4 linked regions of the Homo sapiens genome follow. The protein of the gene in region 1 purifies or fractionates together with the protein of each later gene. This does not show direct contact. Each region holds a gene or a part of one and is shown on either strand. Other genes may lie near its edges.

Region 1 (7,024 bases):
CGGTGCAACATGAATTTCAAATCTAAGCTCCCTGCTATGGTCTGAATGCTTATGTCCCCCAAAATTCCAGTGTTGAAATCCTAACCCCCGAGGTGATGGTATTAGGAGGTGGGGCCTTTAGGAGGCGATTAGGTCATGAGGGTAGAGCCTTCATGAATGAGATTAGTATCCTTATAAAGGAGTGCTCACAGAGACCCTCGCTCCTTCCACCATGTGAGAACCAGTGAAAAGGTGCTGTATATGAACCAGAAGGCAGGCCCACACCAGTCACCAAACCTGCCCGCTCCTTCATCTTGGACTTTTCAGCCCTCAGAACTGTGAGAAATACATTTGTTATTTATAAGCTACCCAGTAAGATACAGGTTGTGTATCCCTCATCTGAAATAACTGGGACCAGAAGTGTATCAAATTCCAATTTTTTTGGATTTTGGAATATTCGTATATATATAAAATGAGATATCTTGAGGATAGAACACAAGTCTAAAGACAAAATTCAATTACACTTCTTTCGCCTTATCATACACAGCCTGAAGGTAATTTTATACAATATTTTTAATAATTTGTGCATGAAACTTTTTGCACATTGTATACTTGAACCATCAGAAAGCAAAGGTGCCACTATCTCAGCCACCCTGTGGACAATCTGTGGTTGGCTGGCATCAGCATCCTTCCTGACTCTGAATCTATATGCTACTGATAAGCAATCACTTTCTTACACTTACTCACATGTAAGTATTTAACAGTAAAAATTACATGTATTTTATTTGTCTTTGTGGGTGTGCTTACGTGGTGAAATCTGGGAGTGCTTGGAAATATTTATATCACAGCTGAAGGGGGCTGGGAACATCTTTTTTCCCATGGGAATGCTGAATAAACTGTGTGTTATATGCCTTCATTCTGACTGTGACCCATCACATGAGGTCGGATGTGCAATTTTCCACCTGTCATGTCATGTCGGCGCTCAAAAAGTTTTGGATTTTGGAGCATTTTAGACTTCAGATTTTTGGATTAGGAATGCTCAACCTGTATTTTGTTACAGCAGCCCAAACGACACTCCCTTAATACTATAATCCACATGATTGTGTACAGTCTTTTATCCTAACTCTCTGCCACACTCAAATTGAGAGCCACTATACTAAATAAATAACTAAAAGCAAAGTTCCAGGATGGATGTGGTGGCTCACACCTCTAATCCCAGAACTTTGAGAGGCCAAGGTGGGCAGATCACTTGAGTCCAGGAGTTTGAGACTAACTGGTCAACGTGGCAAAACCCTGTCTCTACCAAAAAAAAAAAAAAAAATTTGCTGGGCATAATGGCACATGCTTGTAGCCCCAGTTACTCGGGAAGCTGAGGTGGGAGGATCACCTGAGCCCAGGAGGTCAAGGTTGAAGTGAGCCACGATTGTGCCATTACCCTTCAGCATGGGTGACAGAGTGGGATCCTGTCTTAAAACTTTAAAAAGCAAAATTTCCAGCCAGGCACAGTAGCTCATGTCTGTAATCCCAGCACTTTGGGAGGCCAAGGTGGGTGGATTGCCTGAGCTCAGGAGTTCAAGACTAGCCTGGGCAACATGGTAAAACCCCGTCTCTACTAAATACAAAAAATTAGCTGGGTGTGGCAGCATGTGACTGTAGTCCCAGCTACTCGGGAGGCTGAGGCAGGATAATTGCTTGAACCCGGGAGGCAGAGGTTGCAGTGGGCCAAGATCGCACCACTGCACTCCAGCCCAGGCAACAGAGCAAGACTCCATCTCCAAAAAAAAGGCAACATTTCCATACAAGTGTCTGGGCATTATGACTATAAGACAACATTAAATATCTGTCTGTGGCCGGGTACAGTGGCTCACGCCTGTAATCCCAGCACTTTGGGAGGCCGAAGCAGGTGGATCACTTGAGGTTAGGAGTTTGACACCAGCATGGCCAATATGGTGAAACCCTGTCTCTACTAAAAATACAAAAATTAGCCAAGAGTGGCAGCACACGCCTGTAGTCTCAGCTACTCAGGAGGCTGAGGCAGGAGAATCGCTTGAACCCAGGAGGTGGAGGTTGCAGTGAGCCGAGATCGCACCATTGCACTCCAGCCTGGGTGACAGAGCAAGACTCTGCCTCAAAAAAAAAAAAAAAAAAAAAAAACTGTCTGTAAATTAAGGGAGAGATCAGTAGAGAATTTTATAGTGTTTCTGCTTATTTCAATTGTGGTGTTAATTATTAAGCCACTATAAATCTTAGAACATTGTGAGGTTTAAATGAGATAAAAAAAATGTGAAAGCCTTATCATATGGCATGGTAGGCATCAACTGTAGGATCTGAATCTAGACCTTATGAACTTGACTCTAAAATTTACTTAATCAGACCCAATGCAGTTTTTTAAAGCACTCCAAACAAGTCCTTGGACACTTGCTTTTGCTGTCTTCCCAAATTAGCACTTTCTACCGCTGCCCTAATGAACAACTGTGATCTTCCTATCACTTCATAAGGTTCTAAAATCAGCACACCAGTGAAATACAGATATGATGACTATACTGCACTTCTCTTAGGAAACACAGAAGTATAATAATCATTGATGTTAAGGTAGAAATAAAATATACCAGCTCTAAAATATGCATAGCCAATTTTCATTATTTATAGTAGTCATGTTTCATACGTCCCTGAATTACGTCAATGAATTAGTGAATACTGAACCATTCCTCCTAGTGGGGATACATACATATCTTCATCTCACATAGATTATAATCTTTTTTTTTTTCCTTTTTTTTGGGACAGTCTCACTGTCACCCAGGCTGGAGTGCAGTGGCACGATCTTGGCTCACTGCAACCTCCACCTCCCGGTTCAAGCAATTCTCCTGCCTCAGCCTCCCAAGTGGCAGGGACTACAGGCACACACCACCATGTCTGGCTAATTTTTGTATTTCTAGTAGAGACGGAGTTTCGCCATGTTGGCCACTCTGGTCTCGAACTCCTGACTTCAGGTGATCCGCCCGCCTCAGCCTCTGAAAGTGCTGGGATTACAGGTGTGAGCCACCGCCCCTGGCCATATTATAATCTTAAATCCAAAAAACAACTCCTCCTGGTAGAGTTTATTTCCTTTATTTTACAAAAGAGAAAATGAAGTCTAGAAATGCTAAGTGACCTGCATGAGGCTGCCCCAGGGCTGAGATTCAAACCCCAGGAGAGCTGGAGCTTCCTGCACTGTACTGCCCTGCCCTTATACTGCCTCCATCCTCTGCCCATTTCTGCATGACAGCTGGGAAGCTCGGCTGGGAACGTAAACACAGGGAAACTCAAATTTTTCCTGCTCTATGTATGTCCACAAATGATAGCCAAAGCTTCATGGGTATTAATATTGGGGTTACAAATAAGCTTTGGCAAGTAGGCAAACTTGCAAATAGGAAACTCAAAAATAATAAGGGTCTACTGTATCTGTTTTTAATTCAGCTCATTTACTATTTAGATAATGACTATCAAAAGAGCTGACAAAAGCAATTTGATCAAAATGGGAGTGGAGAGAGCATCATGTGTATCTTTTTTTTTTTTTTTGAGACACAGTCTCACTCTGTCTTCAGGCTGGAGTGCAGTGTCATGATCTCAGCTCACTGTAACCTCCACCTCCCAGGTTCAAGCGATTCTCCTGCCTCAGCCTCCCAAGTAGCTGGGACTACAGGCACGCGCCACCACACCCAGTTAATTCTTGTATTTTTAGTAGAGACGGGGTTTCACCATGTTGGCCAGGATGGTCTTGATCTCTTGACCTCATGAACCGCCCACTTCAGCCTCCCAAAGTGCTGGGATTACAGGCGTGAGCCACCATGCCTGGTCTCTTATGTGTATTTTACCTTGTTTTTGAGCTTGGAAAGGTTTTTCACCTCCACTGTGGTGCTTTACACCTCTGTCAGCCACAAAGCCAGAGGACAGAGTCACATTGGTAGGCTGGTTTCTCATTTTCTTGGCGTGTTTTCTTTCTTTTGCATTTGACATTTCTGGAAAGGAAGTAATACATTTAATACAGGGAAAGGAAACTTCCACTCAAAAATAAAAATAAATTTAATGAGTAAATATTCATGTGATTCAAAATAAGTCTATTGATGGAAGAGACCCTATTAGTATATTGCAGTTTGCACTGTCAAATAATTAAATCATATACAACTGTTGATACCACATAAAGTCTGTTAGAAGAATGAAAAATGAGATAAGATTGCTATGGATGATAAAAAATTAATTAGTTCAAATACTTTACCTTGATTATTAGATGAAATAAGAGCCACCTGAATCAATGAAATACAGAACACCCTATTCCAAAAGGAGAAACTCTATTAAAAACAACACAAATTACTGACGCTTTCATTTCTACTACTCAGATGATGCCAGCTATATATTTAATTTATAATAGCAATAGATAATGATTTCAATTTGAAGCAAGATAAAGGACAAAAACAGTGGGACCCCGACTGATTTACCAGTCAGTAGTTCCCAACTCTCAAACTCAACATCCCCTATTTTTACTGATTCAGTTTGAAGCAGCTGTTCTCTATTTTTAAATGAAATGAATGTTATAACCTATTAGACACATATCGAGACATACCCTACAATAGATGCCCTAAATGTAACATAAAGGAGACCTAAGAAGTAATTTTAATAAAATAATATGTATTTCTGTATGTAACTATTTCACCACAACTACACTAGATGATATTATGAATAGATTTTGAACCCAGGGAATAATAACATCCACACAGGCACCAGCACAGGCATTGGCACAATCCATAAAGCTGGATGGTCCTGGAAGCCCTTCAACCCCAAGGTACCAGTGATTAACTCTTTCATTGCTAACTGCAGGAAATCCGAAGGGCCCTATACATGGACACACTAGGAGGTAGGGAAGCTCAGAGCAGCTGGTATTTACCAAGCTGTTCTCAAAGCAGTTCAGTATTTTAATACCAGTCTTTACTTCTACCTATACATAAAATTACCATGAATTCAACAGCTACAAAGGCAAAGCAGCACAGGTGTGTTGTACCAGTGCCTCAAAGAGAAGGTAGCAATGCCACTAATGACGTAATTTTCCAAATTGGTCAACACTCCTTAGTAAACTACCCCCACCCCCGCCACCCTGCCAAAAAAAGTACAAACTTGCTTTGATTTACTGCATTACTGGAAAATTCAGTGCATATTAAAACGGTGTAACCAGGCCAGGTGCGGTGGCTCATGCCTATAATCACAGCAGTTAGGGAGGCTGAGGCAGGCGAATCACTTGAGGTCAGGAGTCCGAGACCAACCTGGCCACCATGGCGAAACCCCATCTCTACTAGAAATACAAAAATTAGTTGGGTGGGCCGGGCGTGGTGGCTCACGCCTGTAATTCCAGCGCTTTGGGAGGCTGAGGCGGGCGGATCATGAGGTCAGGAGATCGAGACCATCTTGGCTAACACAGTGAAACCCCGTCTCTACTAAAAAAATACAAAAAAATTAGCCAGGCATGGTGGCGGGCGCCTGTAGTCGCAGCTACTCAGGAGGCTGAGGCAGGAGAATGGTGTGAACCCAGAAGGTGGAGCTTACAGTGAGCCCAGATCGTGCCACTGCACTCCAGCCTGGGCAACAGAGCAAGACTCCATCTCAAAAAAAAAAAAAAAATTAGTTGGGTGCAGTGGCGCGCACCTGTAGTCCCAGCTATTCGGGAGGCTGCGACAGGAGAATCGCTTGAACCCAGGAGGTGGAGGTTGCATTGAGCCGAGATGATCACACCACTGCACTCCAAGTTGGGCAATAGAGCAAGTCTCCATCTCAAAAAAAAAAAAAAAAAAAACCCGTGTAACCAATAATTTTATATAAATTAGGTACTGGGCTACTGTGGGGCTTTTCTGCACATAGCAGGCTGTCTAATATCCCTGGTCCCTGCCCAATAAATGCCAGCAATGTTAGCCCAATTATGCCAACCAAAACACCTACACAAACTTCCAAAATGCCAGCCACATCAGAATTTGCCCACTTCCACTGAGAGCCACTAAATTACCCCCCATTCACTTACTTCCTTTTCCAATGCAAGACCTCACACAAAATTAAGACTTGCCTATATGGTATAGTGTTTAAGGGCTTTCACTATGGAGTTTGAAAGATGTGGGTTCAAATTCCTTCTTTACACTTTTTAGTTACATAATCTTAGGAAAATTACTTTCTCACTTTCAGCCTCAGCCTCTTCCTCTACAAGTTGCTGTGAGAATTAAACATTATATACAGGCCAGGTGGGATGGCTTATGCCTGTAATCCCAGCACTATGGGAGGCCAAGGCGAGTGGATCACTTGAGGCCAGGAGTTCAAGACCAGCCTGGCAAACATGGTGAAATCCCATCTCTACTAAAAAATACAAAAATGAGGCCGGGAGCGGTGGTTCACGCCTGTAATCCCAGCACTTTGGAAGGCCGAGGCAGAAGGATCACAAGGTCAGGAGATCAAGACCATCCTGGCTAACACAGTGAAACCCCGTCTCTACTAAAAATACAAAAAATTAGCCGGGCGTGTTGGCGGGCGCCTGTAGTCCCAGCTACTCGGGAGGCTGAGGCAGGAGAATGGCGTGAACCCGGTAGGCGGAGCTTCCAGTGAGCCGAGATCGCGCCACTGCACTCCAGCCTGGGCGACGGAGCAAGACTCCGTCTCAAGAAAAAAAAAAAAAAATACAAAAATGAGCCACGTGTGATGGCATGCGCTTGTAATCCCAGCTGCTCGGGAGGCTGAGGCACGAGAATCCTTTGAACCCAGGAGGCGGAGATTGTGGTGAGCCGAGATCACGCCACTGCACTCCAGCCTGGGCGATAGAGTGAGACTCTGTCTCAAAATAAAAAAATGAACAAACATATACATACTGTACATGGTTTTGGCTTTGCAAAATGCATATACACAACTCACTTAGCATGGGGCTTTATGCTAACTAAATGCTCAGTTTATGGTAGCTATTATTCTTAAATAATAAATGAAATAGCAGGGATTGATGCCATTTCACTGTCTCACTCCACTAATTTCAACTAAATGAAAG
Region 2 (7,442 bases), on another chromosome or scaffold:
CTGCTCTGAGGCCGATACAGTCCCGCGGCCTCACTTTAGCCCGTGGCCACTTTCTTCTCAGACTAACTCCCAAAAGGTGCCTGCCCTCTTTGAGTTTTGTTTTCTCCTCTACACCTTCCTGCCTCTGCTTCTTCCTACTGGTGGTAAGCCAAAAAAGGTCGACGGAGCCTGAGTAATTTTAAATGGTGCAAATTATCCATGAAGTCTTCCAAAGCTAGGGTCCCAGGACCATATCCTGTGTTTATTCTCACTCACAGACATTAAGTGGAGTGACTGCAGGTTCTGCAAGGGTAACTAACCCAGGTTTCAAAGGCAGACCTGTGGTTCCTTCCCTGCAGTTGGGGCTGGCAAAGTTTCAGGCCTATTCTTTCCTTTCTCTGAGAGAAATGAAGAGCCACATCCTTTAGGAAGCCTTTTCTAGAAGCTCAGCTCATCACAACCCTCTAAAAAGACCATTCTTCAGGCTTAACCCAACACAATGCCAAAGATCCCAGTAGGCAGCCTAACTGGAGTGTTCTCTGGGGAGCTGTGTGCAGTCAGGGGACTCTGCAGGGCACAGGACTCTCTCCTCTCTGCAGAGGAGTTTCTGGTTCTTCCCTCTCCCACTATCTAGGGTCAATGTGGAGAGGATCTACAGCCAAACCACTTGGGTTCCTGACACGCTTCAACAAACTGTCTAGGAAAACAAAAGCCGCTGATAGGAGCAAGGTGGCTATCAAAGGGCAGAAACGCCAGTATTAGTCTGTCGCTACCCTAATCTCCTCCCTAGAAGACATTCCATGTCTGACTCCCATTCTCAGGCTCCTTCAGTAAATCTGAGGACCAAGTTCCACCTGGATCAAATTCCCTAGTGAGCAGCAGCCTTCAAGGGAAGGGAAGGTGGACCAGTGTGGATTATAGGCCAAGCCGGGAGCAGAGCAAAAAGAGAGTCCTCCTCTATCTTGGAGATCCTTGCAGTCATGACAAAGGACTCCAGGGTCAATGCCCCAAGGTAGACACCCCACCTTTCCAGGTTATAAGAGGGGAGAGACGCCCAGCAGAGGCTCTCACTTGCCAACCCAGACCCCTCTTTTGAGGATCTGGGTCATAACCTTCCCTGCTACATTCCCATTTAATCTCATCTTCACACCTGGCCCCTATTCCAAGAGCCTCTGGACCCTCTTACCGTGACGAAGACAACATTGTTGGGGAAGACTGATGTGTCCGCTCCATCCAAGGGCACTTGGGGGGCAGCGATGGGACCCCGGCTGGCAGTCAGCGAGGCTGGGAAGCAGCTCCTCTTTCGAACGGTGGTGGTCCCTTCCTCACCCTCTGCCCCCGGGTCCCCTTCCAAAGTCTGGGGTGGGAGACGCAGCTCCTCGGAAAGGTAGTGTCGGATGTTTTGGCGGGCAGAATGGATGAGCCGGGAATCGATATCCAGGCCCACCATGCGGGACGGGCCCCACTTGCAGGCAATGCTCAGGGTCAGATGGCCCACATTGCAGCCCAGATCTAGGACGTCCCGGCCCCGAAACCACTCAGGCTTCAACACCCGAAGGCGCCCATCCTCACAGGAAGGATTGCGGTACCCATAGTATTTGCAATAATTCCCATACTGGAACTTGCGCTGTTGCTTTTTGAAGCCTGCTGCAGGCAGTGGGTGGTGGTGGTGGTGGCGGCCTCCCCAACTCCCTCGGCCCTTTTCCTTGGAACCCTGGCCTCCACCCCTAGCCCCTGCCTCCGACTTGCTGGAAGTCCTGCGACGTTTGCGATGTCGGGAGGAGGAAGATGGGGGTGCAGAGATAACTGAGGCAGCTGGAGGGGCTGATAGGGAGCCTGAGGGACCCTGCAGAGCAGATGGAAGGGGAGACACCACTTCATCCCTGCAGTTGATGGCTGTGTTGAGTTCATAGGGTTGGGGGGCATCCCGGTTCTGGCCCCTGTGCCGCGGCTGCTGTGAGGCGCCCTCCCCGTGGAGTAAGGGGGTGAGAGGGGCTGTGGGCGGCACGGGGTGACTCTCACTCCCTCCGGCTGCCTGCTGCTGCTGGTGGTGCTGTCCCCGGTGTCTATGCCGCTTCCGACCAGTCTTGAGTGGCGAAGCAAGAACTACATGGCCCTCATCAGTGCAAGTATTGAGACTGAGCGGGTCAGTAATATCTTTGGGGATGAGGATCTCCACCGGATCTCGCCCTTTGGCCGGAAGGGGGGATGACTTAGGGGTCTCCGCGTTGAGAGTGCGGCTCACTTCCTCATCCAGGAGGCTATTCAGGTTCAGGGGATCAAAGATATTGCCCCCCAGGAGGAAGTTGGAGGGTAACACAGAGTCACAGTCCGAATTCACCCGCCTGCGCCTCTTGAAGGCCGGATGTTTGAAGCCTCCCCCGCCTCCCCCTACATTACAGCTATTTCTCCTCTTGCCCCCGCCCCCCCCAGGTGGCCGGTGGGGCTGATAGCCATTGCGGGGTCGAGGAGGAGCAGGGGGACCCAGCTCTGTCCCGCCCCCTCCCCGGCGCTCCTCCCCCACGTCCGGGGGAGCGGCTCGCCCCGGGGGATCCGACAGGCGGGCCTCCCCATGCGACTGCGCCTGGGGGCCGCCCCCTCGGTGCTGCTGCGCCTGGGGACCACTGGAGGAGGTGGCCGCGGCCCCGGGGCTTTCCCGACCGACCGCAGCGGCTGGGGACCCCGCAGATGGCGCGCAACGACCCGGACCACGCTCCGTCCCGCCGCGGAGCTCCCCAGAGGCGGCCTCTTGGTGCGGTGGCACCGTGGGGCCGCCCCCTCCGCCCGACTCATCTTTGAGCGGCGGCGGCGGGGCCGGCACCAGAAACGGCTCCTTCTCCGCCGCCATCTCGATCATTTCCTCCCCTTATTCCGTGCCAGTCGGGGTAACGAGGGGGATCAGGGGGCCTAACCCCCCCTGCCTGGACCCTGCTCCCTTCCCCCCTTTCCCGAGTGCGCGCGCAGCTCTGCTCTTCACGCCTAGTCTCGCGCCCAAGCGCCTCCCCGCCAAGTGCGCCCTACTAGCCCGCGAGACCAAAACAAGAGGCCCGCGAGACCCGAACTACTCGAGGACTCAACCGCGCGTGCGCCGACCCCTTTCTCCTCCGCCACTACCACCCGGCCGCGAGCGCGCACGGTGAGCGCGCGTTCCCTTCGCCCGGGAACCACGCATGCGCACTCCGCCACCACCCTGGTTGCGCGCGCATCAGACTACGAACCAACTTAACGGCTCTGGGAGTTTAAATATAACCCCCCCACAGCCCCCGCAAAAGCCCACCACCCCAAACTGACACCCTACTTCCCTGCGCAGCTATGTCCGGCCCTACTGATCTCCTTTGTCTCTGCCGCGCGATCCCACCCACCGTAGGCGGGGGACGGGAGCTGGTGTGAAAAGGTCTCCTTGACACCCGACCCTTGTTCCTGAGGAATGAGTCTCAGCGGTCTCCGCCCGGCTCTAAATCCAACAACCTCCCCACCCCGCCTCCTTCCTCCCCCCTAGTGGGCAGCGCCTGCGCACACCCTTTTGGGCTTGCGCGGGTAGAGGCAGCACGTGCTGAAACTGGCGCCCCGCCCCCCGTCTTAGGGGTTGGGCCTGTGACGTCGCTTCCTTAAGTTTGGTAAACGCAGCGTGCGTCAGCGCGATCCGGAGGGGCGGGGCTTCCTGACGAAGGGCGGGGCTCATGAATTATTCATGAGCTGTTGGTAGCAAACCTCCCCCCCTCTGCCCACCTTCTTAGAAGCGCTTCCGAGGGAGCGGAGGGGAGACCCTACAAAGCCAAGGAAGGGCGGGAGTGGAACTGGGCTCAGTAAAACGCGATAGGTCATTATAACTCACCCCCCTTGAAAATATTCTCTGCTGAATTGGGGAAAAATAAAAAGCACTAAAACAGCCGATGTTGTCCAACTTCCTCTTCCCCCGAAACGGCTGAGTCGTTCTCTGGCTCCTCTACCTTCCCCCAATCGCAATCACCTGGAGACGCCACACCACGCCTTCCTCTCCGCCTCAACACCCACGACCCGAACCCCAACGCATCCGCCCACTCCCGACGCCCGCTCACTGGCCCGTCAGTTCGCGGGCCTCTCAACACCCACCGCGGCGCCACGCCGACTTATATACCAGCGAGTGTGGGCGGGGACGGGGGTTCGGTCCGCGCTGGGCCCCCCCAGCTTCTGCCAATGAGGAAGAAGCGAGTCTACGCCGTTTTCCCGGGGAGATGCGCCGCCCGGTCTCCCTGCCAGCGGAGTGCTGGGCCGAGGACAGGGCGGCAGGGGTGACAGTGGGGTCCAGGAGAGTCTCAAAATCCTAAGGTGAGGGCGTGAAGGAGACCAGCAGGAAGAGGAGGAATTAGAGAACGGAAAGAGGGAGGAAAAGGCAGTCTGAAACAGAAAAGTTAGTAGATGTGCTTCAGGAACAATCAGGCGCCGCGGCCGCCGCCTAAAAATATGTGACACCAAAGAGGATTCTGGGATTTGTAGTTTTCCCGGGACGTTCGGGTGGAAGATGGCGGATTTACCTCAGCTGCGGAAACGCAGACGCTGTTTCCAGTTGCGCATGCGCCTCGGCCCCGCGAGCGCACCGCCCTCGGGTGGAGCTAGTGCTCAGGGCGTCCTCGTGCCTTTTCTTGGTGGCGGGAAACCTGGGTTGAGGTGTGAGGGGCTTGCGGAGTCGCTGCGGCAGCTGGTTCCGCCCATCGCCTTTAGGTCCTCCTTGCTCCTGAAGGTAGCCAGCTAGTTTCTGGTTGTAGGTGAAGGTGCTAGGCGCTGCCAGTCCTGGCACCCGTTGCCTGAGGAGAAACTTTCTCAGGGCGACAACCAGCCCTTCGCCCTTTTTCCTCAGAATCTGTCGCCCCCAAGAAACAGACAAAAAAAAAATAGCCCAGTCTCCTGGCGGGCACCAACGATATGAGTGAGAATAAGGATCACGGGGCCTCGGCAGGAGTGGGGGTGGAGGGGAGATTCCCTCATGGTGGGAGGAAGGAAGGGAGGGGACGGGGAAGAGAGAGGGGGACGTGTGGCTCAGGGACACCGACTTGAACCGCTATCCCTGAGAGAGAATAAGGGGTGAGGGAAGAGAGGAAAAATGGGAGCGCCCCACAAATGGGAAGAACTTCTCTGCAAAACTTCTTCCCTTTGGATTGCAGGTGGATTTGGAATTGGGGCTTTTTTTTTTTTTTTTTTAAAGACTGTCTCGCTCTGTCGCCCAGGCTGGAGTGCAGTGGCGCAGTCTCGGCTCACTGCAACCCCCACCTCCTGGGTTCAAGCGATTCCCCTGCCTCAGCCTCCCGAGGAGCTGGGACTACAGGCGCCCGCCACTGTGCCCGGCTAATTTTGTATTTTTAGTAGAGACGGGGTTTCTCCATGTTGGCCAGGCTGGTCTCGAACTCCTGACCTTAGGTGATCCGCCCACCTTGGCCTCCCAAAATGCTGGGATTACAGGCACGCGCCACCGTGCTCGGCTGATTTTTTTGTATTTTTAGTAGAGACGGGGTTTCACCGTATTGGCCAGGCTGGTCCCGAACTCCTGACTTAAGGTGATCCACCCGCCTCTTCTTTCTTGTTAAAAGTTTTAAATCGGGCTTGCTGAGCTTGTGCACAAACACGAAGGAAGAAAGCAAGGGAGGGAAGGGGGAGGAAGGAAGGAGGGAGGGAAGGGGGAGGAAGGAAGGAGGGAGGGAAGGGGGAGGAAGGAAGGAGGGAGGGAAGGAGAAGAGAGAGAGGGAGGGAGGAAAGGGAGGAGGGAGGGAGGAGGGGGAGGAAAGGGGAGGGAGGGAAGGAGAAGAGAGAGAGGGAGGGAAGGAGAAGAGAGAGGGAGGGAAGGATAAGAGAGGGAGGGAGGAAAGGGGAGGGAGGGAGGAGGGGGAGGAAACGGGAGGGAGGGAAGGAGAAGAGAGGGAGGGAGGAAAGGGGGAAGGGAGGAGGGGGAGGAAAGGGGAGGGAGGAGGGGGAGGGAGAAGGGAGGGAGGGAGAGGAAGGAAGAAGGAGGGGAAGCAGGGAAGGGAGGAGGGGGAGGGGGGTAGGAAGGAGAGGGGGAGGAAAGGGAAGGAGGAGGGGGAGAAAGGAGAGGGGGAGGAGGGAGGGAAGAGGGAGAGAGAAAGGGAGGAGGGCAAGGAAGGAGGGGGAGGGAGAGAAGGAGGGGGAGGAAGGGATGGAGGGACAAAGGGAGACAGAAGGAGGGAAGAAGGAAGAGAGGGAGGGAAGAGGGAGGAAGGAGTAAAGGAGGGAGAGAGGGAGGGAGAAAAAGTGAGAGGGAGGGAGGAAACTGCTATTAGTTAATTGAGGCATGAAAATAAGCAGGAGTCCACATACTGTTATTAATGCAAAAAGGAAGATCAGACTCTGGCTTAAAAAAGATTTGAAATATACTTTTTTTTTTTTTTTTTTTTGAGACAGAGTCTCACTCATTTTGCCCAGGCTGGAGTGCAGTAGCACGGTCTTGGCTCACTGCAACCTCCACCTCCTGGGTTCAAGTGATTCTCCTGCTTCAGCCTCCCAAGTAGCTGAGATTACAGGCGCCTGCCACCACGCTGGCTAATTTTTGTATTTTAGTAGAGATGGGGCTTCACCATGTTGGTCAGGCTGGTCTTGAACTCCTGACCTTAGGTGATCCACCTGCCTTGGCCTCCCAAAGTGCTGGAATTACAGGCGTGAGCCACTGCGCCCGGCTGAAATATACTCTTTAAATACCGCTTTTTTGAGGCTCAGGGAGTCTGGGTTAGAGGACAATGCTAAAGGGTTTACTTCTCTTAGACCAAGGATTTGAGGAACAATATAAGGAAGGGAATGATTGGATGGTTAGGAAGAGGAAATTTGGGAACACATTCTGAATGGTGTGTGGGGAGAGAGAATTACTGTTTATTTAAAAAAGTATTGGCAATACTGACAAGTTATTTCACTAGGTCAGTTCTCAAACTTTTTGGTTTGAGAACCCTTTTATACCCTTAAAATTTATGGAGGACTCCAAAGAGCTTTTATTTGGTTTGTATCTGTTGATACTAACATTTTAGAAATTAAAATTCAGAAACATTTAAAGTTTGATTAGAAATAACAATAATAAATATGTTAACCTAAACAGGTTTTTATGAAAAATACATTCTCCTAAACAAAAGAAAATTTAGCATGAAGAATGGTGGTGGTTTACATTTTTGCAAATCTCTTTCATGTCTGGCTTAATAGAAAACAACTGGGTTCTCGTCTGTTTCTGCATTCAGTCTGTTGGGATATCTTGTTTTTGTAAAAGTACATGAGAAAATCCAGCTTAATACAGATAGGTAGTTGGAAAAGGGAGAGGGCCCCCTAGGATTTTGGGACTACACTTAGAACTGCTGAGTTAGGTGATTTCATCTCAAAATTTATGTGATGGTTTTTAATGTTCTAAGTGAAATAAAACTCTTTTTTGAGATCCTCATTCACCTTCCCTTGGTTCCCTTTATTATTTCTAAGTTCTTTTTCCCTCCTTATTTACC
Region 3 (7,024 bases), on another chromosome or scaffold:
AGTAGGCTGCACTGTGAATTGGTCAGGAAGCAGAAGAGTCCCTGTTAATTTATTCACCTATTTTTTATTAAAGAGAGAAAGTTGGAAACATACAGGTGTCTAGCTTGTTGTTCAGAGTAAATAATAGTTGTGGCATAGGTATGTATGTATTATTTGTAACATAATATCCAGTCTGGCTGTGGAGCTGTTTGTCTACATAAAGTATGGAAATGTATACATTGTGAGAGCACAGTCTTGGTCCTTGCATGTTCCCTTGGCTTTGAGTGTAAACTTGTTTTTGGCCTTGAGAAGTTCATAGATTGGCTTTAAAAGGATCACTTTATAAGGATTACTTTTTTTTTTTTTTTTTTTTTTGAGACAGAGTCTCGCTCTGTCCACCCACGCTGGAGTGCAGTGGTGTGATCTCGGCTCACTGCAGCCTCCGCCTCCTCAGTTCAAGCAATTCTCCTGTCTCAGCCTCCCAAGTAGCTGGGATTACAGACATCCGCCACCACAGCTGGCTAATTTTTTTTTTATTTTTAATAGAGTTGGGGTTTCATCATGTTGGCCAGGCTGGTTTTGAACTCCTGACCTCAAGTGATCCACCCGCCTCGGCCAGGATACTTTAAATTAAGCACAGATCTTAATTTTGTCACGATGTGGGCCCTTTTCTTTGGTTGTGGTGAAAAGCAGTATTAAGAAAGGTAAATCATTCATCTTTTACCAATAGGCCAGATGCCATGTGAGAATCATCAGCTTGGAAGGTTGGGATTGTGAAGGAGGGCCCAGGAGCTCTATAGCATACCAAACACTCCATTTGTGTACTTTGCAGCTCTTTTCCCTTTTGTCATCTTCACTGTATGCTTAGGGCACCATAATTTCAATTATGCAATTTCCTCTAAAATCTCCCACAAACCTCTTCTGGAGTCTAAGTAACTTGTCATCGCATTTCTGTCATGTGATAGATGTGTTTCTAAAAAATTGGATTCCACTCCTTTTCTTGAATAATCACATGACTTCAGATTATTTAGCATTTTATGACATAAGCAGTTTGATACCTGCTTTGGCCCAGCAGTTTTGGGATGGGGTAGATGTTAATTATCTCCATATGCAGGTAATACAGTAGAATCTTAGGTAGTTCATGGTTCACACAGTTAAATGACTCTCTCAAGGGGTTGACAAGGGATTTGTACTCAAGCTTTGATTCCAAATCTGCTGTTATTTCCTACTGGGAAATGCTTTTTAAAGTTACTTTACAGCAGAACTCTTTGTTAAGCACAGAGTAATTTCATATTTTAAAACATGAGCTTTATGAATTCAGGTTGTGAGAAGAAGGATGTTCTTAAAACAGCACGTATCTCTTTACTTTCCCTTTGATTTTTTTACAATGTTATTTCCATTTCAATGTTATTGTCACTTAACAATGACTTCAAGCTTATTGAGTTATTTTAAGGGATCTTATATGTTTTACACTCTCTCTGATGTTTTCCCCTCAGTCCTTCCTTTAACCCTAATCCATTTCTGTCTTCGTGGTCCGATTACTCCCCACTGAGAGATGTTTAGTAAGTAGTATCTAAACAGTGAGGTAGTTCCATGAATCATGCTATAAATACTTGATTTGGATGTGAGTGTTCTGTAAACTTTGTTTTATCACACATGAATCTAATGTGTTAAGTACTGTGTCCATTCAGTGCCAGCAAATTGTGCCAGTATTAAAAATTTCTGTGGAAAAAAAAAATGCAAACAACACCAGAAACAAGGTTAAAAGACAGATGACAAACTGATGGAAAATTTTCACTCATGTCATAGACAAAATGCTTATTCCCTTAACACATAAAGACCAAAGAGTGCCTAGAAATTAATAAGTTAAAAAAAAAGATGAACAATACCAAAAAATGGATTAAGAATATGAAAAAGGCATTTCACAGTAAAGGAAATGCAAACAGGCCTTAGACATATGAAAAGATGATTAAATTTATCATAGTAAGAGATTTCACATTAAAATCACCTGTGTGATTAGAGATACACTCTGTTGTAAGGCTGCAGGAAAGCAGACATTCTCATATTTTGCTCGTAACTGTGTAAATGAGAACAGTCCCTATGCGGAGAGTGGGTAATTTGGCAACAACTATTCAAATTACAAATACGTTTACTGATTTAAACAACAGTTTTAAACTGTATGATCTCACAGTTCTGAAGCCTGCAAGTCTGAAATCAAGGTGTCAGCATGGTCTTGTTCCCTCTGAAATCTATAGGACCACCTTCCTTGCCTCTTTTTAGCTTTTGGTGATTTTCTGGCAATCTTTGGTAATCCTGGGCTTGCAGCTACGTAACTCCAGTCTCTGCCTTTGTCTTCAGTGTGTTCTCCCTGTTTGTCTCTATGTCTTCACATGGCCATCGTCTCATAAGACACCAGTCATATTGGATTAGGGGCCTACCCTATTCCAATCTGACTTCATCTTAACTAATTACATCTACAGTGACCCTATTTCCAAATATAAGATTACATTCTGAGGTACTGAGGTTTAGGGCTTCATTGTATCTTTTGTGGATGAGGACGCAATTCAACCCATTATGCCTAGCAATCCCACTTTAGTGTTATTCTACAGATACACTGAAACCACCCAAAGGCTCTCAGTAGAGGTTTGGTTAAATACATGCTATACCTCTACAATATGATACTCTACAACTGTAAAACAGAGGAAGTTATGAGCTGACTTGGAAGAGCTTTCATGTCAGGACAACAATGCAGCAGACTACCTTTTGGATAGGAAAGAAAAATAGTATCTCTTCGTATTTGCTTATAGTTGTATGAAGAAACTCTGGAAGAAGACACAAGAAATTAATAAAAGTGATTATTGGAGGAAGGGATAGGGCAGATAGGATTGGAGATGCAAGTAGTACTTTTTATTGTTTTCTTATGTTGCTTTGTGAGTCATGTGGACAAATTACCTGTCTTAAACACTGAAAGGGTTTCATTCATTTGAATTGAATAAAGAACTAATTTTTATGAAATTAACAGGGAATCAGTATATTGTCCCAGTAATCAGCTCCTTACTTTCTTCTCGTCTTTCTCTAAGGCTTTGCTTAATACTTGGAATTTTAGTACCAATGTATCTTGATTCAACTGTCACACACCTGTCCTTAGTAGCATCTTTATGACCATTATTTTTCATTAGTAAAGAAATGTGATCATCCACCCATGCCAGAACCTTTGGTCAGACATGAGAACAAAAGCTAATCAGGCAGGCACTGTTAGGAAGAGGCTGTTAGGAACAATCATTTGATGAGCTTTAGGCAATTTGCATCAAAATGGTCTTACAGCAAGATCCCAGGTAATGAGTCTGTATTTTATCCATCTAAAAATTTAAAATAAGATGCTATGAAAGAAATATTCACAACCTTCAATAGCACATTATTTTTAATTTTTCTTTTTCAAGAATTCCTATAGCAGTTTTAAAGTGAACTTGATTAATGTACCAAGATGAAAATCAGAACTTTTTCCTTAAAAAATAATTATGCTGATAATATCCTTTTTTTCTCCCCTCCCCCCGCAAAAGTTGTTTTTATTTTGATTTGGTACCCACAAGGGTCTAGAAATTTAGATTCAGTCAATTAGGAATATTTCGAGATCTAAGCATCCAACTCTATATATCATTCACCTCTTTCATTTATTTCCCCTCTTCATCATCCTGTTGCCTTGTATTATCGTTCCACAACTAGAAGGATAAGGAAAAGAAATACAGGTCAGCCTCTTCAGCTAATTAGTAGTTTTGGTAAAATATATAGCCAAGGAGATGGCTGATAATATGGCTAAAAGGGATGTTTTTACTTATCTGTGGTTTTTGGTTAGCCAGGTGCACCGAGGTTCCTTTGATGATGGATCATCTATAATGAACAACGTTATCACAGGACATCTTCTCCATAAGCTGCTATTTATTCACTCAAAATATAAATATATTATACACCTTTTATGTAAAAGGCAGTCTAGCTCTCAAGAAGTGTGCAAGCTTGGCAGAGCCAATGAGATACACGTTCAACTAGGACAGAAATACTATCTTAACAAATGTCATTCCCAGAAATAATCAACACAGGTGAAAGAATTAGAGATGGGGAAAAGTCAAAAAATGAGAGAGGGAAAGGTTGCAGTGTGGAAAATAGCATTTAAATTCTAACCAAACTAGAATCAGACATATAGGAAAATCTAAAATAAAATCTGGGAGCCTTGAAGCCGGAGGAAGAATTAAGGAAATCTGTGTTCGGGAGGGAAAAGCAGAAGGGGCCTTCAAGTACAACTGAATTAAATCAAGATGGACTGCCAGTTCTAGAAAAAGACAAGTTTCTCCATTCCCCGTAAATGCTCAGGAGTAAACCCCAGTAGTCACAGCTGGGCCAGTCCCAACTTATACTCTGGGCAATCGAAACTCATTTGCCAAGCAGAGACTTGGACCATACTGCCTAGAACATGCCTACCATTCTTTCTTTATTCTTTTGAAAGAGTACTGCCACTCAAGTGACTTTTGCAATTGAGAGTCTGATTATCATCTCTATGCTGAAAATCCTTCAGATGTTTTCTCCATTAGGAATAATCCTCATCACCAGCTCTAAAGGCCTGCACAGTTGGCCCTTCCCATCCTCTTTAGCCTGTCTTCCTCATTATTTTTCTCCAGCATTTGACCTTCCCTACGTGCTGCCATGCTGCAACCTTGAAGACTTTTGCATGCTCTGACCTCCCTCTGAAAGTGCACCTTCCTCTACTATTTAACTGCTTAATTTCTTCCTCAACCCTAAACTTCTCCTTGATAGCACTTAACACAGTTGAAGTTTTGTATTTTTGTGTGGTTATTGATCATCTCCCCCACTAAAATGTAAGCTTTTAGAAGGGAGAAACCATCTCAGCTTTTGCACGTAGTGGGCTTAAAACATCTTTTGTGAATGGATGCAGACATTTAGGTGCTCATTAGGAAAGCTGAACAGTATGGTGGTTAATTTCAATATCATTTCCACTCATCTACTTACCTGTGGATCCCTCTGTAGTAAGAGTACATTAAATAAAGAAGTTTCTGTTTCTCATGAAAAAAGCCAAGCTTGTATGGTGAGCTGGGCAAAATCTTCAAGGGCACTTCCATCTTTTTTGCTGTGCGGCTATAAGCCCAGTGAAAAATCAGGGGCTTTATTACTAAAGAAAAAGGAGAGGACAGATATCTGGGCAATTTGCAGGCTTTGCAGTAATGCTTTATAAAGGTATTGTAGTAAGGATTAAATATTATATATAAGACTCTCTTAGCATATAGTCAGCACTCAATTAACTATGGCTGTTATTCTCTCTTCAACATATAGAGAATAAATTACTTACCTGAAAGACCTTCCTGCCCTTGGTTCTTTGGGCTTTTTTCAGCTCTTCATTTCTTTGTCTCTTTGTGCATTCATAGGTCAGATTACTTGGTTTACTATGTTTGTATACAGTTTACTGTAAATGTAGGGAGTACATTTCTGTTTTCCTTTTGATAGTTCATGGAGTAGTAGCCCCTCTCTCACGCCATTGGGACTTTGTTCTTCTTAGCCTCTTCATAATTCCTGTTTATGTAAAGTCAGCTTCCCCACAGCCAAGTTAAACTCTCTTAATCAAGTAGAGCCACGGATTTATTTTCTTCTCCTTGTGGGTGGTGCCATTTGAGTGTTGATCTGTCTTTCATAAAGCTGTACCTTGACATGTAAGGGGTCAGTAGTAGGGAGTGAGGAGGGATGTGAAGAGAGAATCAGTGAAAATGAAGTAGGCCAGTGCATGCTTATCTCTGACAGTTCTCTTTATTTCCTGTGAAGGCGATTGACCGAGGCCTGGCTTTTGAACTTGTCTATAGCCCTGCTATCAAAGACTCCACAATGAGAAGGTATACAATTTCCAGTGCCCTCAATTTGATGCAAATCTGCAAAGGAAAGGTATGGTTCTATAATTTTAGGATGTTTTTCGCATCTGGCAGTTTATTATTAGTAGTACACTGGAATTGTCAAACTGACTCCTTTTCCTTAAAGCAGAATGTTCTCATAGCATAGGAACAAATTCTGCCATTTCAGTGAGCTCTGCAAATTTTAAGGGAAAGAAAAATACCAAGGGAAGAATAATGTAAGGGAGAAAAAGATGTGTTGGAAGCCATATCTTTTGATAAAAATTTGCAATTTACATACTGTGAAAGAAAAGTCTAGAATAACAATGGTCCTCACTGAGTTGAATTAAGATATGTGACCTTTTCATCTTGTTTTTTAAACTTAATTCACCTTTACTAAGATCTGTTAGGAAAACATATTTTGTTTTTTATTACAGATTGCCTTTAGTTTGACATGAAGTCTTTTCATTTTTTTCACCTTAATTATTTACCTTATCTTTAAAAGAAGTTGGTATTTGAGCCTTAAATGTTAAAATATGATTACTGGCTATTTATATTATGAAACTCCTTTTTTTACATTTATCTAAGATTAATATTAGTCACTTTCTATTTTGTAGAATGTAATTATATCTAGTGCTGCAGAAAGGGTAAGTCTAGCATGAAGTACTTTGTTTTCATCTTTCAGGTTATAAAACTTTTCAGTTTCTAGGGGATAAATTAAAATAGTAAATGAATATTTGTTGCATTTTTTTCTATTTTAACTGCATTTGCTCATTGTAATTGCTAAATAGTAAAATTTATCCCCACTTTCTTTAGGCTTCAACTTTTGTTTATATAATCAGTTTTTCTTTTATACTGTTACAAAATGCCTTTCAAGCTTCTCTTATATTTTCAAAAGCTATGAAACCCATCAAAATTATAAGGACTTAAATTTATGTAATTTTTTTATTTTTGGATACTTAAATTTTCTATTAATTTGCTATAAGTCATTGAAATGTTATAAATAATTTTCTCATATCTACTCTTTGTTCATTTTATTTCAGCCTTTAGAAATAAGAGGGCCATATGACGTGGCAAATCTGTATCCTTTTCTGAGTAAAAAGTTGTTGACATTGTCTTTCAGGAAATTTTGAATTTGAAGTCGTATTATAGTTGAACAT
Region 4 (7,000 bases), on another chromosome or scaffold:
CATAACACAGTCTCCTCCTCTCCTAGCTTTAGCCCTTAACACAGAGTGTGGCACATCTAACATGGTCAGTAAAGAATTCCACCAACTCAAGAACGAAAAATAAACTCCCTATCATGGATAAATGTCTTTCCCCATTATATATCTTTCTTTCCTCTTTATCTTCTCTTTCTTCATCCCTTTCTTCTCACATTTTTTCTTCATTTTCTGTATAATAGCAAGTCTCCTAGGCCAGGTGGCTGTGCTGGCCATTCCCAGTAGTTCTCAAAAACACAAACAGATCCTTCTGGAAAGTTCTGTCTTGAATTGGTCCCTGTTGCAGGACAGTACATTAGAAATGGTATTTCTAGAAGGCTTGGAGAAGTAGATGATAAGCCAGAGTTTCCTTCTTGGGATTCCTCTCCCGAGTCTGAACTGGAAACCATTGACCTAGTTGTTAAACAATGGAGGCCCCCAACCCAGAACATTTTAATGGGATAACTTTTAGATTTTCTTGAGAAACATGAACTGAGAATAGAAAGACTTCTACATTCTCTCACTGCCCTGGCCATTCCGGTCCCTATTTCAGGGTCTCAGTCCCTCAGGAGAGATATACGAGACCCCCAATGGGTGTCCAATCCTTGGATTTTCCTCTAAGACTTTATCCATGTGTTAAGAGTCCACAATGCACCTCCAAAGAAGCTCCTGTGTGACCACCATTCATCTTCTGAGGATATCAGCGATCCTTTCATGCCATCCCATGCCAAGACTAACACTGCTCTGTGGTGATCCCCCATCCTATATCTGTAGGAAGCCATGCTGGGTCTGCCCGAGCCAGAGTTTTCAAAATCTATAATCCCTCCAGAACCTCCTTGCTTTCCTCAACATAGATTTTTGCCAAAGGAGATCAGATCCAATTGGAAGATCCCTCCCCCGCAGCAGAATACTTTGTAATTGGATTAGTCTCAACAGCAACAGTAGTTCTGGCCTTGAATATGAGTTAATCAGCCAAGTCACAACACAAGAAAGCTGACTGCACCAGAAAACCCTGTACAATCCGTGAATTTCTTCATGGTTGAGACTCAGATGAATCATCATGTTGATCTGACTCATGCTTCTCCCTGCCTTAGGCCAAGAGACTGAGGCTTCACCTGGGATCTGCCTCTTTCCCACTCAAGAGTCAAATGAGCCCCCAAGGAGTAAGAAAAAAATGTGATTGATTCTGATTTGCACCCCAGTCTTTTTTTAATTTATCATAAAGAATCAAATATTTACATTAGAAGATATCTTGTGCTGTGAAAAAAAAGGAATAAAAGAAGGGAGGAAGAAAAGAAGTGGGAGGGTGGGAGAGAAAGGAAACAATAGAATAAGGCAGGCGCGGTGGCTTACGCCTGTAATCCCAACACTTTGGGAGGCCAAGGCCAGAGGATCGCTTGAGCTCAGGAGGTCAAGACCAGCCTGGGCAACGTGGAAAGACCCCATCTCTCGAAAAAAATAAAAAATTAGCCAGGCACAGTAGCATACACCTGTCGTCCCAGCTATTCAGGAGGCTGACGTAGGAGAATCGCTTGAACCTAGGATGTGTGGCTGCAGTGAGCCATGTTCTCACCACTGCACTCCAACCTGGGTGACAGAATGTCACCTGTCTTAAAAAGAAAACAATAGGCTAGAAAAAAAAGAAAAGAAAGCAGTAAGTGACATAAGACCAAGAGGAAAAAGGGAAACTTGAGCATCATCTGTCCTCCCAGTGGCCTACGGAGGGAAAAGAGTAGACACTTAGCTTCACAGTCCACCGCAAATCAGGCAGGGTCACTTCTGCAAACACTGGTAACCTACTAAAACCCAAGCACAGAATAAGACAGACACTGAGATTCAGAGATAAAGTCAAGATGGCTCCTACTGTTGCAGGGGAACTAGAATGACTCAGAATCCCAGACAGGTCATGTTTGAAGAGGCCATTCATTCACTCCCATTGAGGTGAAAGTTGCATCCCTTTCTCCCTTCTCTCCTTCTCTTATCCTGGAGCGCAAACATTGTGTGGAGTGCAAACATTGTGTGGAGCCCCTACATAGGCGCGGTGGCTTATGCGTTGGAGTTGAACTACTATGAAGGTACTTGAGATCTGGTGATTCCCTTGGATAAATTTCCTACAAGGAATCATTTCACAAAGTTTTATGGACAGAAAATGCCCATAATTTGGATGGTGGCTTTTGGAGCCGTGACATGATCTCAGCTATATGAATAGAATTATAAGGACAAGATGCTGAGGGATTTACTCAAGAGCTCTGACTAGCTGACAGTAGAATCTTGGCAGATCTTCCAACACACACATCTAGTATGGCCCAATCTTCAGAATTATCTGTGCATTTGGGCAAGAATAGGCCCCATCGCCAGCACCCTGGCATTTGGGCAAGACTCGCACAAAAAATGAGGGATGGCTTCAGGAGTAAGAACCTTTGAGACGGCCTGGGTTGTGGACTTAATAGTCTGGAGAGATATCAACAGGTATCAATTTAATTTAATGGTTCCATTCCTCAGATATCTCTAGGGCAGAGTCCTCAGCCCAGGGCACACACAGAATCACGACTCTGAACGTGAGCATTCTCACTGGAGGGGTAGAGGTCACTGTGGTGACCCTTTTGAGCACCCAGGAAAGATTCCCAGGTAAAAGGAGGACTGAGGAAAAGCTGGAAAAGAGGCAAGTGTCAGCCTAGGATGTGTCAGTGGGCCATGCATTCATCTACAGGAAGGGCGGTTCCGCCTGGAAGAGGCAGAGCGGCCCTTCTCCCCCTGTCCACCCATGTCTCCTCACCCCACCTCACCCCGAGATGAGGAGCCCTGAGAGAGCTGGCAGGCTGCAGTCGGTGAGGTCTGCAGATTTGGGGAAGAAGTCGAATAAGGTAGAGAACCACAGAAGGAAAGTCCAATTAGGGCGCTGGGGCCTGAGATCATCAGGCCCTAGCCTGATGACTCAGGAGTCTAGCCCTCCAGATGAACTGGCTGGTTCCACACACAGGTCAAGTGGATGTGCTGGGAGAACATCCTAAACCTGTAACGGAAATTAGGGGGCCAGGAGCCCACAGAAATCACACACTGGGTGAGCTCAAGTGTTCGGAGACTGAGGTAGCAGTTGTCCACTGTCAGGTCCCGAAAGTAGATATCGCCTTGCATATGCCATTTATCCTTCTGATGCTCTAGTGAATGAAGGTGTTGATGAGCTTGCAGACTCTGGAGACCATTCCCCTATGCTATATTATCACGTCACAATAGTGGCTGGACCCACCTGAGATTCTGCACCTCAGGTAATCAGACGGCTACTGTCTAAGTCCTGGGCCTGGGGGAAACACTCTGACGTAGCAGCAGACACAGGAGGGTCCCCGTCAGAACCATGTTTTCTGTGAAGTGGGGATCAGTCCTTTTCCCTGAAGTACCTAGCACATAGGTGTTCTCAGTAAGTGTTATGTTAGCTTACTAAGAAGACTGGTCTCATTTGAAGAGAAATTAACAAATGTAAAAAAATAAATAAACCTATTAACTAGGTTTAATATTTATCAAACTATTAACTATTCAATAATCATTTAACTATTAATTTCTGTTTTCTTCAGTCGCTTAAATCTGATTTTTCTCTTCTTTCCGTTACTGCAGTCTCCCTTTTTCACACAGGGAAACAACCCAAGACTCAGAGTTCTCCGCGGAGGAATGCAAAGAACACAGGAAGTCAGTACTCCCAGAAACAGTCTTTGCTGGCGCGCTCACACCCAACCCCATCCCGCCCCCGTCCCGTCCCGCCCCGCCCCACCCCACCCTCTTGATTTCTGGGGCCGGTGACCAGGCCCAACGCAGCCTTCAAGTCGGCCCAAACACGGTTTCTGCCTCAAGGATTATTTATATAACCATTGCTTATTGGCTGCTGGCAAACACTCGCTCTTCTCGTTGGCTGAAACTGTCGGGAGAAGTTCTGCGAAGGCTGCTCCTTGCGGCGTTGGGACTGAGGGTCACAGGCACCTGTATTTCCGTTTCCGGTTCGCCTCCGGAGCCATGGCGGCGGCACTGAAGTGTCTACTGACATTAGGAAGATGGTGCCCCGGCCTTGGAGTGGCTCCCCAGGCCCGGGTGAGTGCCTACATTCCCTGCTGTCGGAGAGACTCTGGATCTGCAGAGACATCTCCGCGCAGAGGAGGAGCGCTCCTGGCAGCCCCCGCCCTAGCGATTGCCAGCAACTTTCCTTTCTGCCAGGAAATCAACCTACCTTTCTCTGCCTGCAGGCGCTCGCCGCCTTAGTACCCGGAGTGACCCAGGTAGATAACAAGTCCGGTTTCCTGCAGAAGAGGCCTCATCGCCAGCACCCTGGCATCCTAAAGCTGCCGCACGTGCGGCTGCCACAGGCACTGGCTAACGGTGCCCAGTTATTGCTACTTGGTGAGTAACGGCGGGAAAGCGAGAAGAAACGGGACTGGACCTACATGCAAGTGATTCCGCTTTTCGTCTTTGGCCCATAGGGAGCGCTGGGCCCACTATGGAGAATCAGGTGCAAACACTGACCAGTTATCTCTGGAGCAGACATTTGCCTGTAGAGCCAGAGGAGTTGCAAAGACGGGCTAGGCATCTTGAGAAAAAATTCCTGGAAAACCCAGGTAGGACTTAAGAATAATTAAAAAGTGGGCGAGATTGAAATATCGGTTAGAAATGAAGAGTAAGAAATAATTCTACAATCTCTCAGATACTGAAGTCTCTTATTTGACTTTCTAACCAGAGCAGCAGTTGTTACAATGATGCCTTACTAAAAGAAGGTAGATTATTTTAGAGATTGCTTAGGTAAAGGTCAGAATGTCCCAGTATACTGTTTTTTGTTTGTTTGTTTGTTTTGTTGTTTTGTTTTTGCTTTGAGACAGAGTCTTGCTCTGTCACCCAGGCTGAAGTGTAATGCTCGATCTCGGCTCACTGCAACCTCCGCCTCCCGGGTTTAAGTGATTTTCCTGCCTCAGCCTCTTCAGTAGCTGGGATTACAGGCGTGCACCACCACACCCGGCTACTTGTATTTTTAGTAGAGACGGGGTTTCATCATGGTGGCCAGGCTAGTCTCGAACTTCTGACCTCAGGTGATCCGCCCACCTTGGCCTCCCAAAGTGCTAGGATTACAGGCATGAACCACCGCGCCTGGCTACCAATATACTGTTAAAATCTAGATATTTATTTTTTTCTGCAAGTCCACTGGATTAGGACCTTCTAAGTTTTTATTCAGGTAAAATAAAGTCCCTGGATGGTCCCTGCCCAGTACTGAAACCCTCTTCTGGGATAAGAGGGTAAATATAATTCATCAAGTTAGTTTCATGATTGTGAGCTCCTTGACACTACCATTTATTCATCTTGCATTCCCTGCACACCTCACAGTACCTGGCTCACAGTAGTTCAGTAGATACTTGCTAAATAGTACTGAACTGAACAGTCATGAGACGTAGATTTTCAGATTTCTTTCCTCTCCATAGGAATAGTGGAGATCATCAAAACCTTAAATTTTGGAGAAGTGAAGAAATCCAAAAAATAATGTCCTTGGCCTACCCTTTAAAAAAAATTTTTTTTTTTTGAGACAGAGTCTTGCTCTGTTGCCCAGGCTATAGTGCAGTGGTGCGATCTCAGCTCACCACAACCTCTGCCTCCCGGTTTCAAGTGATTCTCCTGCCTCAGCTTCCCAAGTAGCTGGGAATACAGGTGCACGCCACCACGCCTGGCTAATTTTTGTATTTTTCGTAGAGAAAGGTTTTCACCATGTTGGTCAGGCTGTTCTCAAACTCCTGACCTCGTGATCCGCCTGCCTCAGCCTCCCAAAGTGCTGAGCTTACAGGCGTGAGCCACCGCACCCAGCTTACCCTTTAAATTTGTATCACACTTTCCTTTAATATAAAACAAACCTGTGGGACAGGATTGGTTAAGCTGAATAAACCATTCTTATAAATAAAATGCTATCTGATACAATCTGTTAGTGGTAGTTGTTACCGTTAATTCTTGCCTGAAACTTTTCTCTAGGTTTGTCGTCTCCCTTGAGCTTTAAGGCTTTTCTTAGGTGGAGTCGGGGAGGACTGGGTGGGCAGTATATTCAGATATTGGATCTGAGCCCTGTTCTCCCTAGGTCCTGACTTCCAGTCCTTGTTCTCACCACAGACTTATCTCAGACAGAGGAGAAACTTCGTGGAGCAGTGCTACACGCACTACGTAAAACTACCTACCATTGGCAAGAACTGAGGTAAGGGGGCCCAGAAGAGGTGCACAAGAAAGCAAAGGTAGACTTTAGAAAGAGAGTTGGGGGAGTACAATTACACAATCAATTTAGTATTTTCTTTTATATCACCTGACCTTAAAAGGATCAATTTAGTATTTGAAAAAGCTAAAGTACAAAGTTTTGAACACTGAAGTTTGAAAATTTAGTGTTTGTAAGTCTCCCCAGGACCCTTTTGTATTGGGGAGTGAAAGGCCTGAGCTGGAAGAGCCCTTTCCAAGATGTCATTTTCTAAATCTAGAAGGTAATTATGGGATTAAGGTTATTTACTAGTATGTACAACTCTGTGATTTTAATGGCAGCTACACTGAGGGACTGAGCCTGGTGTATATGGCAGCAAGACTGGATGGTGGCTTTGCAGCAGTCTCCAGAGCATTCCATGAGGTGAAAGTCCCTTAACTTCCAACCTGAACTTTTTGACCATCAGTTCCCTATTCATAAAGTAGTTTTCTAGGATGGGGATTCTTGGGACATTGCATATGCATTTTTTTTTTAAAGAGGATCTCCGCTGGACATAGTGGGCTCCTGCCTGCAGTCCCAACTGTTTGGGAGGCTGAGGCAGGAGGATTGCTTGAGCCAGTTTGAGGCTGCAGTGAGCTGTGATCTCCACTGTACTCCAGCCTGGTGACAGAGTGAGACCTCATCTCTTAAAAAAAACACAAAATAAAGACGTTCTCTTTATCCTGTGAAAGCTTTCTGTGACCCAAGAAAGGTTTAGAATCACTATTTTAGGAGATTCTTATCCCATAA

The links.
Region 2: the proteins of POP1 (region 1) and MEPCE purify together in Homo sapiens (affinity purification with mass spectrometry; 2 studies listed by BioGRID). This does not show direct contact.
Region 3: the proteins of POP1 (region 1) and RPP30 purify together in Homo sapiens (affinity purification with mass spectrometry; 6 studies listed by BioGRID and IntAct, with this or other methods). This does not show direct contact.
Region 4: the proteins of POP1 (region 1) and METTL17 purify together in Homo sapiens (affinity purification with mass spectrometry, with the first as the bait; 2 studies listed by BioGRID). This does not show direct contact.

The regions. Positions count from the first base shown.
Region 1 is NC_000008.11:98,120,289-98,127,312, reverse strand, and holds part of POP1 (ribonucleases P/MRP protein subunit POP1), read right to left. Parts: intron 3,978-7,024; 5' UTR 3,976-3,977; coding exon 3,834-3,975; intron 1-3,833. UniProt on the Homo sapiens protein: Component of ribonuclease P, a ribonucleoprotein complex that generates mature tRNA molecules by cleaving their 5'-ends. Also a component of the MRP ribonuclease complex, which cleaves pre-rRNA sequences.
Region 2 is NC_000007.14:100,425,413-100,432,854, reverse strand, and holds the start of MEPCE (7SK snRNA methylphosphate capping enzyme), read right to left. Parts: upstream 3,025-7,442; 5' UTR 2,837-3,024; coding exon 1,166-2,836; intron 1-1,165. UniProt on the Homo sapiens protein: S-adenosyl-L-methionine-dependent methyltransferase that adds a methylphosphate cap at the 5'-end of 7SK snRNA (7SK RNA), leading to stabilize it.
Region 3 is NC_000010.11:90,888,973-90,895,996, forward strand, and holds part of RPP30 (ribonuclease P protein subunit p30), read left to right. Parts: intron 1-5,802; coding exon 5,803-5,919; intron 5,920-6,481; coding exon 6,482-6,511; intron 6,512-6,907; coding exon 6,908-6,945; intron 6,946-7,024. UniProt on the Homo sapiens protein: Component of ribonuclease P, a ribonucleoprotein complex that generates mature tRNA molecules by cleaving their 5'-ends. Also a component of the MRP ribonuclease complex, which cleaves pre-rRNA sequences.
Region 4 is NC_000014.9:20,985,989-20,992,988, forward strand, and holds the start of METTL17 (ribosome assembly protein METTL17, mitochondrial isoform 2 precursor), read left to right. Parts: upstream 1-3,991; 5' UTR 3,992-4,014; coding exon 4,015-4,089; intron 4,090-4,241; coding exon 4,242-4,395; intron 4,396-4,475; coding exon 4,476-4,610; intron 4,611-6,135; coding exon 6,136-6,217; intron 6,218-6,552; coding exon 6,553-6,634; intron 6,635-7,000. UniProt on the Homo sapiens protein: Mitochondrial ribosome (mitoribosome) assembly factor. Binds at the interface of the head and body domains of the mitochondrial small ribosomal subunit (mt-SSU), occluding the mRNA channel and preventing compaction of the head domain towards the body.